2 separate regions of the Homo sapiens genome follow, and region 2 is linked to region 1. Evidence: fine-mapped expression QTL. Tissue or cell type: monocytes after LPS. Region 1 holds a variant in brackets; the other region holds the start of a gene. All regions are shown on one strand. Distances are between the middles of the regions.

The links. PIP is the estimated chance that this variant, and not a neighbour inherited with it, causes the effect.
Region 2: it holds the start of FBXO28, and the variant in region 1 is fine-mapped to the expression of FBXO28 in monocytes after LPS (Quach 2016, PIP 0.95).

Annotation. Positions count from the first base shown.
Region 1 is chr1:224,084,807-224,092,065 of GRCh38, forward strand. No RefSeq gene overlaps it. Among named protein-coding and RNA genes, the nearest start is that of FBXO28, 26 kb to the right of the region's middle. The variant T/G (reference allele first, on the strand shown) is at 3,184.
Region 2 is chr1:224,109,324-224,116,235 of GRCh38, forward strand. It overlaps FBXO28 (F-box protein 28), which reads left to right and starts at 4,788. Exons shown (of 5, transcript NM_015176.4): 1 at 4,788-5,073. The coding sequence starts at 4,807. LOC105373056 (a long non-coding RNA gene) reads right to left here and starts at 4,717. Exons shown (of 3, transcript XR_007066897.1): 1 at 4,612-4,717; 2 at 1,440-2,206. RefSeq lists enhancers at 4,431-4,560, 4,581-4,640, 4,781-4,850.

The DNA.
Region 1 (7,259 bases):
CTCCAATAAAAAAAACTGCAGGCTGGGCACTGTGGCTCACACCTGTAATCCCAGCACTTTGGGAGGCCAAAGTAGGTGGATTGCCTGAGCTCAGGAGTTCAAGATCAACTCTACAGGAGATGAAACCCCAGCTCTACAAAAAATACAAAAATTAGTCAGGTGTGGTGGCGTGCACCTGTAGTCTCAGCTACTCAGGACACTGAGGCAGGAGGATCGCTTGAGCCTGGGAGGTCAAGGCTGCAGTAAACAGAGATTGCGACACTGCACTCCAGCCTCAGAGTGATATCCCATCTCTACAAAAGAAAAACCAAAAAACAAAAAACCTCACACTGCAAAGCCTCACATTAATTTCCCAAAGTTCCACTTTCAAAGAGTTGCTTCCCCTAAGGTTTAACTACTATTCATATGTCATTGTTACAAAAGAGGATATAAAGTATCTCAATAATTCTACAGTACGTCATAATTAAAATAAAATCAATGGAGTAAATTGGAACAAGGAGAATATAAAAATTAAAAAAATAGAATGAAGCTCAGAGCAAAATGAAAGCTATGAGGGTTTATTCACCGGAGAGATAGAAATTACAAAGTTAACTCTGAATGTTCAAGATTCCAGGCAAAGAAAAAATATATATGATCAATTACATGGTCCACAGTGCTCTCAAAAGATTAAAGAAAGTAGTTGCACAGGAAAAAAAATATATTATCCCTAGTTGAAACCAGAAGAAAATTTTTCCTGTAGGCTCCCACAAAGGAGACACTGTGTAATACAGTCATCAACCACCTCAAAAATATCTATAGGATGCTGAAACAATGCTATCCAGCTTCCTGCTGATGGTCCAACACATGCACAGATTTTAGAATCATTAGAAATATTGATGAAATGCCTAACTTATCTTTTTTTCTTTTTAAATTTTATTTCTCAATTTTTTTATTCCTCCTACTCTCTGATACCTGCTCTTTTGTGGTTTGAACATTAGTGGAAAATCTGTAAAATTTGGGGCTGAAAATGAAGACCAGGTATAAAATCACCATAGCCACTAAAATGGCTACAACGAAGCAGAAAAGGAGGGGGAATAAAAGGAGGGTGTGGTTCCCTCAATAAAGAAACTGCTTCCTTCATGCTGACAAACTAACCCTCATCTCTCTATATATATATATATGTTCTGCATTCTGTTATTCCCCCAGTCAAATTTATTATTTTTTTTTAATTTTTTTTTGAGACGGAGTTTCACTCTTGTTGCCCAGGCTGGAGTGCAGTGGTGAGATCTTGGCTCACCGCAACCTCTGCCTCCCGGGTTCAAGCGATTCTCCTGCCTCAGCCTCCCGAGTGGCTGGGATTACAGGCAAGCCTCACCACACCTGGTTAAGTCGGTATTTTTAGTAGAGACAGTGTTTCTTCATGTTGATCAGGCTGGTCTCGAACTCCCGACCTCAGTGATCCACCCGCCTCGACCTTCCAAAGCTCACGCCTGTAATCCCAGCACTTTGGAAGGTCTGGGCGGATCACCTGAGGTTGGGAGTTCGAGACTAGCCTGACCAACATGGAGAAACGCTGTCTCTACTAAAAATACAAACTTAGCCAGGTGTGGTGCCGCATGCCTGTAGTCTCAGCCACTCGGGAGGCTGAGACAGAAGAATTGCTTGAACCTGGGAGGCAGAGGTTGCAGCGAGCAGAGATCATGCCACTGCACTCCAGCCTGGGCGACAGAGCGAGACTCCACCTTGTTAGATATGAGTTCTAAATTTCTTTTCAAATAATTAATATGTCAGTATGTTCAATTCTTTGCCTTCTACTTTTAAACTTAACTTCCTCGTAAAGCAACCTTTTTCGATTACCCTCCACCCTGACTCCTTCCGATTACCTACTCCACCCTGACTCATTCCAATCACCTGCTCCACCCTAACTCATTCCAATTACCTGCTACCTGCTCTGCCCTGACTCCTGCCAAAGCACTCACCCCGTCATTCTCTTTAAATTAGCCAATCGGAATTAGTTTAGCCTGTGTGGTCTAACCCTAGCCAATAGGGGAACGACACAGCAGCAGGGGCCACATGTGTCAGGGATAAGAACCCCTTCCCCTCCCTTGTCCAAGTGTGTGCTCACCATTGTTCCATCTATAAGGGTGCACCCTTCTATATAGAAGTACCTTGCCTTGCTGAGAATTAAAAAGAAAATTTTATACTCGAGTGTTATTCCTTTTGTGGCACCGAAACTTTATATATAACACACCTCAAAAAAAAAGAAAACAGACAGGGTCTCACTCTATTGCACAGACTGGAGTGCAATGGTGTCATCATAGCTCACTACAGCCTTGAACTCCCAGCCTCAAGTGATCCTCCCGCATTATCCTCTCAAGTAGATGAGACTACAGGTGTGTGCCACCACAGCTGGCTAATGTTTTTATTTTTTGTAGAGGTATGGTTCTCACTGTGTTGCCCAGTCTGCCTCAACTCCTTGGCTTCAAGTGATCCTCCCTCCCTGACCTCCCAAAGTGCTGGATTACAGGCATAATTGCATCTGGCCCTAGTCAAATTGTAAATATGCTATTCAGACACACTAGATTCAAACACTTACAGCTTCTTATTTTGAAGTTGCAATATGATACTTATTCTTTGCTGTGAAATCTAAATCCTCTGAAACCACCCTCCACAGCCCAGCAGGAAAATGTCCTGCCACACGTAGCTATTTGAAGTCTCTGGCTCGCCTATTTGAATGCTCATTATTTCCTAGATTCAAATGGCCTTATAAATGCACCTATTGTATGATTATGGAAGAACTATTAAAAATAATTCAGGAAGCCAAAGGTTATAAAACAGAGACATGAGTAATTGCTTTGGTCTGTGATCTTTAAATGGCATGCATAAAAGACCAAGCATTTAAAGTGGGGCAGGATAAGGCAAAACACAGCACAACTTCCCAGAATGTCCTTTAGCAGATCAATGCTTATGGCTGTCTAATTTCATGTGATTATTAGAATAGACAAGTGAAGGCCGGGCGCGGTGGTTCATGCCTGTAATTCCAGCACTTTGGGAGGCCGAGGAGGGCAGATTCCTTGAGCTCAGAAGACCAGCCTGGCAACATGGTGAAACCCTATCTCTACTAAAAACACAAAAAATTAGCCAGGTATAGTGGCATGTGCCTGTAGTCCCAGCTACTCAGGAGGCTGAGGTGGGAGAATCACC[T/G]GAGCCCAGGAGGTCAAGGCTACAGTGAGCTGAGATCATGCCACTGCATTCCCACCTGGGCAAATGGAGTGAGACACTGTTTCAAAAAAAAAAAAGACAAGTGAGTCTCAAAGGAAAGAACTAACCATGAAGGGGACTTCTCAGAACCTGGAGAAGTGGACTATGTAAATTGAAATCACATTATAATGTTATACTATTATTTATATTGGTTAAAGGAAAAATGCATATCTTCATTGTAAAAACTTCTTCCTCTTTTCCTTTTTTTTTTTCTTTTTTTTTTTTAGATGGAGGGAGTCTCCCTCTGTGGACCAGGCTGGAGTGCAGTGGCACGATCTTGGGTCACTGCAACCTCCACCTCCCGGGTTCAAGCAATTCTCCTCCCTCAGTCTCCCGAGTAGCTGAGATTACAGGTGTGCACCACCACACCCGGCTAATTTTTGTATTTTCAGTAGAGACAGGGTTTTGCCAGGTTGGTCAGGCTGGTCTCAAATTCCTGAGTTCAAGTAATCTGCCCATCTTGGCCTCCCAAAATGCTGGGAAAGGTGTGAGCCACCATACCTAGCCCTGTAAAAATTTCTACAAGTAACATTTGCAAAAAACAATCTTGGCTGCTGAGAATACAAAGAAACAATGATTCTCAGAGTCATAAGAAAGCAGGGGAAATGAGGGTGTGCCTCTCTGTGGATACACTCAGCACCTCAGGACAGGACCTGAGATATCTATGATTATGAAAGATAACAGGGGCCATGCACAGTGGCTCACAAACACTTTGAGAGGCCAAGGCAGGAGGATCAGTCGAGCCCAGGAGTTCAAGATCAGCTTGAGCAATATCACAAGACCTCATTTCCACAAAAACAAATTTTAAGTTAGCTGGGCTTGGTGGTGTGCACCTGTAGTCCCACCTACTCCAGAGGCTGAGGCAGGAGGTTTGCTTGAGCCCATGAGTTTGAGGCTGCAGTGAGCTATGATCACAACACTGCACTCCAGCCTCTGACACCACAGGTGACAGAGTGCAACCCTGTCTCAAAAAAAAGGATAATGAAGAAGGTATAAAAGAAGACATGGACTTAAAAGTTTAGAAAATTGGCCGGGCATGGTGGCTCACACCTGTAATCCCAGCACTTTGGGAGGCCAAGGCAGGAAGATCACGAGGTCAGGAGTTCAAGACCAGCCTGACCAACATGGTGATAGCCCGTCTCTACTAAAAATACAAAAATTAGCCAGGCATAGTGGCGGGCGCCTGTAATCCCAGCTACTCAGTAGGCTGAGGCAGGAGAATCGCTTAAACCTGGAAGGCAGAAGTTGCAGTGAGCCAAGATCATGCCACCGCACTCCAGCCTGGGTGACAGAGACTCCATCTCAAAAAAAAAAAAAAAAAAAAGTTGGGAAACATTGTACCAGCCAGTGGGCTGTGTCTAACTCATCTTCCTTTCCCCCAAGCCTATAATTCCATTTAACAAAACTCTAGCACAAATAAATCTAATCTATGGTGATGGAGTGAATATCAGTGGTTGCTTGGGGCAGGGGCTGTGGGAAATGGAAACTGATTGGAAAGGGGCAAAAGGAAACCTTTCGGGGTAATGAAAATGTCCTATATCTTGAGTATGGCGGTGGTTGTATGAGGATATATATTTATTATTCATCAAACTGTACCAATAAGTGTGTACACTTTATTATATGCAAATTGTACCATTATTAAGGTTTTTTTAAGACTATGTTGCCCAAGGTGAACTTGAACACCTGGGCTCAATCAATCCTCCAGCCTCACCCTCCTGAGTAGCTGGGACTACAGGCACACGACACCACGCCCATCTGTTAAGTTGATTTTAAAAGGAACCACAACATGTTCAAAAGAGAACCCTTGCCCTAAACCTGCTCCTCAAGTCTTCCCCATCTCAGGAAATGTCAACTCCATTCTTTCATTTATTTAGATCTTGGAGTCATCTTTGACTGCTCTGTCTATTTAATCTACATTTTCTTTATTTTCATTTACATTTGAAGGACACCCAGACTCTGATCTCTTCTTAGTACTTTTCCCTCTTCCATCCTGGTGCAAGCCACTGTCCTCTCACTGATGCAGGAAACTCTGAACTGGTCTCCCGCTTTCATAGCCTCCTGGCTTCTCCACTATTCTCCCTGCCATGACCAGAGTGGTCCATTTGTAATATTTTTGCTCACATGACTCCTGTGCTCAACACCCCCCATAGTTTCCTTTCTAATTCAGTACAAATTCCAGAGTGCTTACATGGCCTGCAAAAGAACCTACGTGATCTGTCCCCAACCCTCTCCCTCACATTCACATATTCTCTCCCACCCTCAACGCACACACCTCTACGCTTCTCATTACAATTCTCTATGCTCACTAGGCTCACTGCCCTCTATGCTGTTTTTCAAACACACCAAGCACACTTCCGCCTCAGGACCTTTGACTTGTGCCTTTGCCTTCAATAACATTGACATCCTCCCAGATATCCCGAGGCCTCATCAGAGAAGCCATCACTGACTGGCCCATATAATAGCATTCCTTCTCTCTCTCTATCCCTCAGTCCTGCTTTATCTTTCTTCATTTAACTTGTCTTACAGATTGTATGTGTTTTTTCTCTCCCCTAACTAGAATGTATTTTGTATGTTTTGTTTGCTGCTGTATCCCAAGAGCCTAGAGCAATACCTGGCATATTAAAGATGATCAACACATTTTTGCTAAATGAATTAATGAGTCCATTTTTCTTTCCTTTCAAGTCCTGACCATGAATATTTTAAAATTGGCCTGACTAAAATGTAACTCTTGGCTGGGCGTGCTGGCTCACACCTGTAATCCCAGCACTTTGGGAGATCAAGGAGGGCAGATCACCTGAGGTCAGGAGTTAGAGACCAGCCTGACCAATATGGTGAAACCCTGTCTCTACTAAAAATACAAAAATTCCCCAGGCGTGGTGGTGGACACCTGTAGTCCCAGCTACTCAGGAGGCTGAGGCAAGAGAAAGAGAATCACTTGAACCCGGGTGGCGGAGGTTGCAGTGAGCTGAGATACTGCCACTGCACCCACCCTGGGTAACAGAGTGAGACTCTGTCTCAAAAAAATAAAAAATAAAAATAAAATGTAACTTTTGATTATTCTCATTGTGCTGAAACCTGTGCCTCCTTTAGTCTCTTTTTCCCATTTAAAGGACTCATCCTTCACCTTCGTGCTCAAAAGACTGGAAATCATCCTTGATTCCTCTCCTTACCTCATCTACCACATTCAATCCATCAAAGATGCTTTTATTAATAGATCTATCTCCAAAATATATCCTAATCCAACTATTTCCTTATATCTCTACTGCCACCATCCTAGTGCAAGCCAACATTGTCTCTGCCCTGGATTATTAAAATAGATTCCTGACTATTCTACCGATATCCTCTTCCAATTCAATATCCACACAGAAGCTGGTGACATTTTCTTTTAGTGGTTGTTGTTTTTTTGTGGGTTGTTTTTTTTTTTTTTTTTTTTTTTGAGACGGAGTGTCCCTCTGTCACCCAGGCTGGAATATAGTGGCGCAATCTTGGCTCACTGCAACCCTCGCCTCCCAGGTTCAAGCAATTCTCCTGTCTCAGCTTCCCCAGTAGCTGGGATTACACATGTATGCCACCACACTCGGCTAATTTTTGTATTTTTAGTAGAGACAGGGTTTCACTATGTTGGCCAGGCTGGTCTCAAATTCCTGACCTCAGGTGATCCACCTACCTTGGCCTCCTAAAGTGCTGGAATTACAGGTGTGAGCCTCCATGCCCAGCCGCTGGTGACATTTTCAAGTCAGAATATATTATTTCCTGATGAAAAGACCACAAACTTCAGTGTCCAGAGTTTTTACTGGCATTTCATTATGTAGGCATGATTGATGTAGGTCATGTGCTGTGATTAAACTCAACCTCCAAACTCCTTGCTCCCTGAAAGTTGAGCTGAAAGTTCCAACCCTCTAATCACGTAGTCGTTCATTCCAGCATGGCCAATCCCTATACTAAAACTATACAGGGGTCCATCATGAGTCATCTCATTAGCGTAAATTCAGGTGTGGTTGAGGGGCCCACCAAGAGGA
Region 2 (6,912 bases), 24 kb after region 1:
AGTTAGAGAGTGATGATTCATATTTTAAAGGATTTTCTATGGGTTTCCTTTAAATGAGTTTCCATAATGAATTTAAAGCATGATTCTATTTACAAAAATTATATTTCAACCTAACCTATCAAGAAGCCATCTAGTTTTAATTAAAAAGGTAGAAAATGAATTTAATTAAGACTAAGTTGTAATGGGTTCTATGAAGAGATAGCAATATCATAGAAGAAAAGTAAAATTACAATCTATTAGTGGAGATAAAACTAACATATTATAAATATGCAAACATGTCAGAAAGAGTCAATCATAAAGCATATGTTGAATGCTAAACAACCCAAAGTAGGAGAATCAAAGGAACAACTTCAAAACTTTTGCAACAATCATAGGTAAAATGATAATTGTTCACATGCCAAGTGAATGGGGAAAGGATGCCAATTCTAACAAGCTCAACACCACCAATTAATTTCTTTGCTTCAGTTGCCCCCACTTCCCTTAACCTTTAGTCATACTTAGTTTTTTCTGCAGTTTTCACATCTACTGTGCAAACATTAGATTCCAAAAGAAAGCTACAAAAGAAAGGACATATTGGAAGCTTTAAGAATAAGACCAAAGCACTAGGGAGAAGAAAGCTTCAAAATTTAATGATTTGGCAGGCATGGTGGCTCATGTCTGTATCCCAGCACTTTGGGAAGCTGAAGTGAGAAGATTGCTTGAGCACAGGAGTTCAAGACCAGCCTGGACAATATAGTAAGACCTCATCTCTACAAAAAATTTAAAAAGTAGCCAGGCATGGTGGCGCACACCTGTAGTCCCTACTTGGTAGGCTGAGGTAGGAACATTCCTTGAGCCCAGGAGGTCAAGGCTGCAGTAAGCCATGATCATGCCACTGCACTACAGCCTGGGCAACACAGTGAGACCCTGTCTAAAAAAAAATAGTGACTTGTATACCTTTATCTTTGTCATAGGATATTATAAGTATACAAACATACAGAAAGTTTAGGCAACCTTTAAATTTTTTTTCTGAAATAATTACAAGATAGTACAAGGAAGACTCTGGTATACCCTTCAACCAAATTCATCAATTAATAACATTTGCTGTATTTGCTATATTAACCTCATTCTCTATCTATTTACTTGAACCATTTGAAAGTAATTTGAGGCATCATTTCCCTCTACCCATAAATACAGAAATACCTCTGAGATATTGAGAGTTAGACCACACAGGCCACCATAATAAAGCAAGTAGTGCAATAAACCCAGTGACACAAGTAAGTTTTGGTTCCCAGTGCATATAAAAGTTATGTTTATATAAAACTGTAGTCTATTAAGTGTGCAATAGCATTATGTCTAAAAAATGATATACTTTAATTTTAAAATATTTTATTGCTAAAAAATGCTAATCATCTGAGCCTTTGGTGAATCATAATCTTTTTGCTGGTAGAGGGTCTTACCTCAATTTAACAGCTGCTGATCGATCAGGATGGTAGTTACTGAAGGTTAGGGTGGCTGTGGCAATTTTCTAAAATAAGATAGCAATGAAGTTTGATACACTGATTGACTCTTTCACAAAGATTTTTTCCATGGCATATGATGCTGTTTGATAACATCTTGCCACAGTAGACCTTTTTTCAAAATTGGAGTCAATCTTCTCAAACTCTGCCATTGCTTTATCAACTAAGTTTATGTAATATTCTAAATCCTTTGTTGTCTTTTAATAATGATCACAGCATCTTCACCAGGAACAGATTCCATATGAAGAAATCACTTGCTTTGCTCATTCATAAGAAGCAACTCCTCATCCATTCAATCCATTCAAGTTTGGCTTTTTTTCTTTTCTTTTTTGAGCTGGAATCTCGCTCTGTTGCCTAGGCTGGAGTGCAGTGGCACGATCTCAGCTCACTGCAACCTCTGCCTCCCAGGTTCCAGCAATTCTCCTGCCTCAGCCTCCCGAGTAGCTGGGATTATAGGCGCATGCCACCACGTCTGGCTAATTTTTGTACTTTTAGTAGAGAAGGGGTTTTGCCACATTGGCCAGGCCGGTCTCGAACTCCTGACCTCAGGTGATCCACCCACCTGGGGCTCCCAAAGTGCTGGGATTACAGGCGTGAGCCACCGCACCCGGCCTCCATTCAAGTTTTATCATGAGATTGCAGCAACAATTTAGTCACATCTTCAGGCTTCACTTCTAATTCCAGTTCTCTTGCTATTTCCACCATAGCTGCAGGAGAAGAAGAGAGATGGGGAAACAGCAGCCAGTCAGAACACCTACATGTATTGATTAAATTTGCCGTCTTATATGGGTATGATTGGTGGCACCTCAAAACAATTACAATAGTAACATAAAGATTACTGATCTGCCAGGCATGGTGGCTCACTCTCGTAATCTCAACACTTTGGGAGGCCAAAGCAGGCAGACTGCTTGAGCACAAGAGTTCAAGGCCAGCCTGGGCAACGTGGCAAAACCCTGTTTCTACAAAAAAAAATCAAAAATTATCCAGGTGTGGTGGCACACACCTGTAGTCCCAGCTACTCAGGAGGCCAAGGTTGGGGGATTGCTTGAACCCAGGCGGTGGAGGCTACAGTGAGCCATCATCCTGTCATTGCACTCCAGTCTGGGCAACAGAGCAAGATGCTGCCTCAATAAACAAAAAAAATTACTGATCACAGCTCACCATAACAGATATAACAATAATAAAAAGTTTTAAATATCAGAGGAATTATCAAAATGTGACAGAAAGAAACAAGGTGAACACATGCTGTTGGAAAAATGGCACCAAGAGACTTGCTCAAGGGTTGCCACAAACCTTCAATTCATTTTTAAAAACGCAATATCTGAGAAGCACAAGAAAGCAAAGTGTAAAATACAAAGCATGCGGCCGGGCGCCATTGCTGCCTGTAATCCCAGCACTTTGGGAGGCTGAGGTGGGTGGATCACAAGGTCAGGAGTTCGAGAGCAGCCTGGCCAAGATGGTGAAATCCCGTCTCTACTAAAAATACAAAAATTAGCCAGACGTGATGGTGGGCGCCTGTAATCCCAGCTACTCAGGAGGCTGAGGCAGGAGAATTGCTCGAACCAGCTGACATCGCACCACTGCACTCTAGCCTGGGTGACAGAGCAAGACTCCATCTCAAAAAAATAAATAAATAAATAAAGGAAAATAATAGAAGCATGCTTATCCTTCAATGTGTATTTCCTAAAGACAAAGACATTGTCTTATATGACCATAATACAATTACCCAAATCGAAAAATTTAATATGATTACAGTATAATCTAATATACTGTCCATTTTTAAATTTTGCCAGTTGTCACAATAACGTTCTTCATAGTTATTTCTTCCTTAATCCAGGATCCCATCCAGGATCACCCATAGATTTAGTTGCCCTGTCTCTTTAGTATCCTTTAATCTGCCACAAACCCTTAGTCTTTGTCTTTTGTAACGTTAACACTTTTGAATAATTTATGGGCCCGTCATCTAGCGATGTCTACCTCAAACGCAACTCGTGCTTTTTTTGCATGAATACTACATTATGCTGCGTCCTTTTCAGGGTATTATATTAATAGGCATATGATATTGGCTCCTCCTATAACTGTGGCGTTAGTCTTGATCATTTGGTTATGATGGTGTCCACCAAATTTCTCTATTGTAAACTTTTTTTTTTTTTCTCGCTCTGTTGCCCAGGCTGGAGTGCAGTGGCAGGCTGACGGTTCGCTGCAGCCTCGAACTCGTGTGGCTCAAGCAATCCTCCCATCTCAGCCTCACGAGTAGCTAGGACCATAGGACCTAGCCACCACATTTGGCTAATTTTTTGTATTTTTTGTAGAGATGGGGTTTCTCCACGTTGCCCAGGCTGGTCTCCAACTTCTGGGCTAAAGTGATTCTCCCGCTTCAGCCTTCCAAAGTGCTGGATTACAGGCGTGAGTCAACACGCCCAGCCTTGTAAACTATTTCTTTTCATCTTTGTAAATAATACATAATTTATGGGGAGTTATTTTGAGACTATGGAAATATCATGTTCCTCATCACGTTTACCTCCTAGTTTTAGTACCTTTTGATGATTCTTGCCTAAATCAGTTATTAGAATACAATTCATATATGATAAAATTCATTAAAGTATATAGTAATTCAGTGGTTTTTGTATATTCATACGGTTGTGTAACCATCACCGCTAATTCCAGAGCATTTTTATCACCCCGAAAATGAAACCCTTCACCCATTAGCACTCATTTCCCCATTTCCCCCAGCCTCTGGCGACCACTAATCTACTTTTTATCTCTATGGATTTGCCTATTTAAGACATCCTATATAAATGCAATCATACAATATGTGGTCCTTTGTGTCTAACTTATTTCACTTAATATGTTCTCACGGTTCATTCATGTTGTAGTTCTTATTGATATTTCATACCTTTTTATTTGCCTAAATCAATCATTTCTATGATTCCTAAAAAATGGTGCTAGTCTAACTACATTATTTCCATCTACACTTACTAGGCAACATCTTTATCATCCATTGTCAGGAAGCCCTTTAAGAAAACTGCACAGTGAAGTTCATTTTAATAAATAGGGTTTCCTTGCTCTCAAGTAGTTACTAATCTTAGACAAAAGGGTCTAGGATGACCACCTTTCTTGAGGTTTACATGATCTTCCCTGACTTCCACTTGAAAGGCACCCTGTGAGTCTCTCTCCGCCTGTTATCCCACAGGCTCCTCCCCACTCCTCCAGGTACCCCTTCCCCGGCGGCTGCAGGAGGAGGAAGTGACGCACCGGAAGTGTCCCTGTTCCCCTTGCTGTGGGGGTAAGGAATCAAGCCCCCAAGATGGCGGCAGCGGCGGAGGAGCGGATGGCAGAGGAAGGAGGCGGCGGCCAAGGCGACGGCGGTTCCTCTTTGGCCTCCGGCTCTACCCAGCGACAGCCTCCACCGCCCGCGCCACAGCACCCGCAGCCGGGGTCCCAGGCGCTCCCAGCCCCCGCGCTGGCTCCGGACCAGCTGCCTCAAAACAACACGCTTGTGGCGCTGCCCATCGTAGCCATCGAGAACATCCTCAGCTTTATGTCCTACGACGAAATTAGCCAGCTCCGCCTGGTGAGGCCCCCGCAGAACTCCTGCCTCCCTCTCCCCCCGGCCGAGGTCTGGGAGATGAGAAGGGAGCGCGTTCCCCGGGAAGGGAGCCCCCCGCGAGCCCCAGCCGGCTACAGATCTGGGAGGGAGCCGCTCCCGTCCCGAACTCTCCCTTGGCGTCAGTCAGCAGGAGTGGGCTGGTTCCCGATTGCGTCCTAGCTGCGGAGCTGGGGTTACTTCCTGAGGGGACTTCGCCTTGGGGGCTCCTTGCCCCCCGCCCGGAAGCGGGCCCTCTACGGGAGGGGTAGCGGAGTTGGTCTTCCCACCTTCCGCCTGGCCCGAGAGTAGACCCGGAGAGGTCATGTCGCCTGCCTTTTGTATGCCGCTTCCAGCCCCCGGCCTGGGTTTGGGGAGAAAACTCAGAAGTAGGCAGATGATCCCAGCCAGGTTTGGTTTATCTTGCAAGAATAACGAATTGTTCCCCACCCCAACCACCCAAGTTTTCTTGTTCGAGAAGATTGAGTAGACTAAGGTGGCTCAGTGACCCCAAACCCAGGTAGAGGTTCCGAAGAATTCGAACGTGTTTACTTAGCGTTAGCCCCAGCGCCCTAATTGACCACTAAAGTAGAGCCTTGGGAAATGACCATTCCTGCTTTGCCTCATCCTAACGCTTCCCACCGTAGAGAAGCAACTTACCCCTTGACGGGTTTTTTCTCTTTTGCAATTTATTTTTAACTAGTGATTTACGCCCACCCACCTGCTTTAGGAGAGGTTTCTTTATACCTTAAAATCACAATAGGTCAGTCCATGATTTTTAAAAATAATGAATTTGCCATTGGGGTTTTACTTCACTCCAGAGGTTTGAAGATGTGGTGATTGTTAGTTCAGTTAGATATTTTGCTGCCTTTCAATGAAATTATCTTTAAGTGGTAAAGAAATTGAAGGAGGTGGACATTTTGAAGTGATTGCAAACCGATTCCATGGAGAAGCTAAATCTGTGCTGGGAATTGTTTTTAAGAGGACAAAGATATTTCTGAATGTGCTGTGTATAACATCTTCTTATTACTCAATATGCTATATTGTAGGCATACACCTCCACTTTCAAGTGGATTATAATTACATTTTTAAAGGAAATCATAACATTTTTAAAAGAGAACTTATAAATATTAATTCAAACTGATGGCCAATTTTTTTTCTAGTCAACACAGCAGTTCAACCATGCCAGTCTGCAGGATGGAAAATTTCTTCAGCTGAAAATAGATATTTCACAATTGATTGCCTCTGAATTTCCAAAACGTTTTCATTCTAGAATTTCATGTAGAATCTTAAATATTCCTTCAGATTTTTACAAACAGTGGCGTTTAATCAAAATTCGCGCTGTACATATACAGTGTTTGGAAAATTGGGCATATAACATTTGATTGAATTGAACCATTCAACCAGACAATGGCTTTGTAAATCTTGGAATATTCACAGTTCTGTTTTGTAAGTGTTGAGAAAAACTGAGTTTTATTTGTTTGTTGATCATTTTACTATTTTAAAAAAATGTAGTGGGGAGGGGGGAACCAGCCTGTCCTAACTAGAGTTAAAACACATCCCACAACTTATGAATAAATGACATCTCTGTCAGGTGAGATATTCAGCTGCATTCTTAATTTTTAAGCAGTTTTCTGGCCTTTTAAGGTTATAAATTTATAATTTCAAACTCAGATTTTTCATAAGGAGTCCCTTCAGTACAACTGCCCACCCCCAGGAAAAGATTCTGCCCCGTTTTACATGTGCAAATATGATTTTTGAGTAATGGGGAACTATTTTTTTTACTTAAGGCTAATGGATAATTCTTGAATAGATTAAATGGATAAT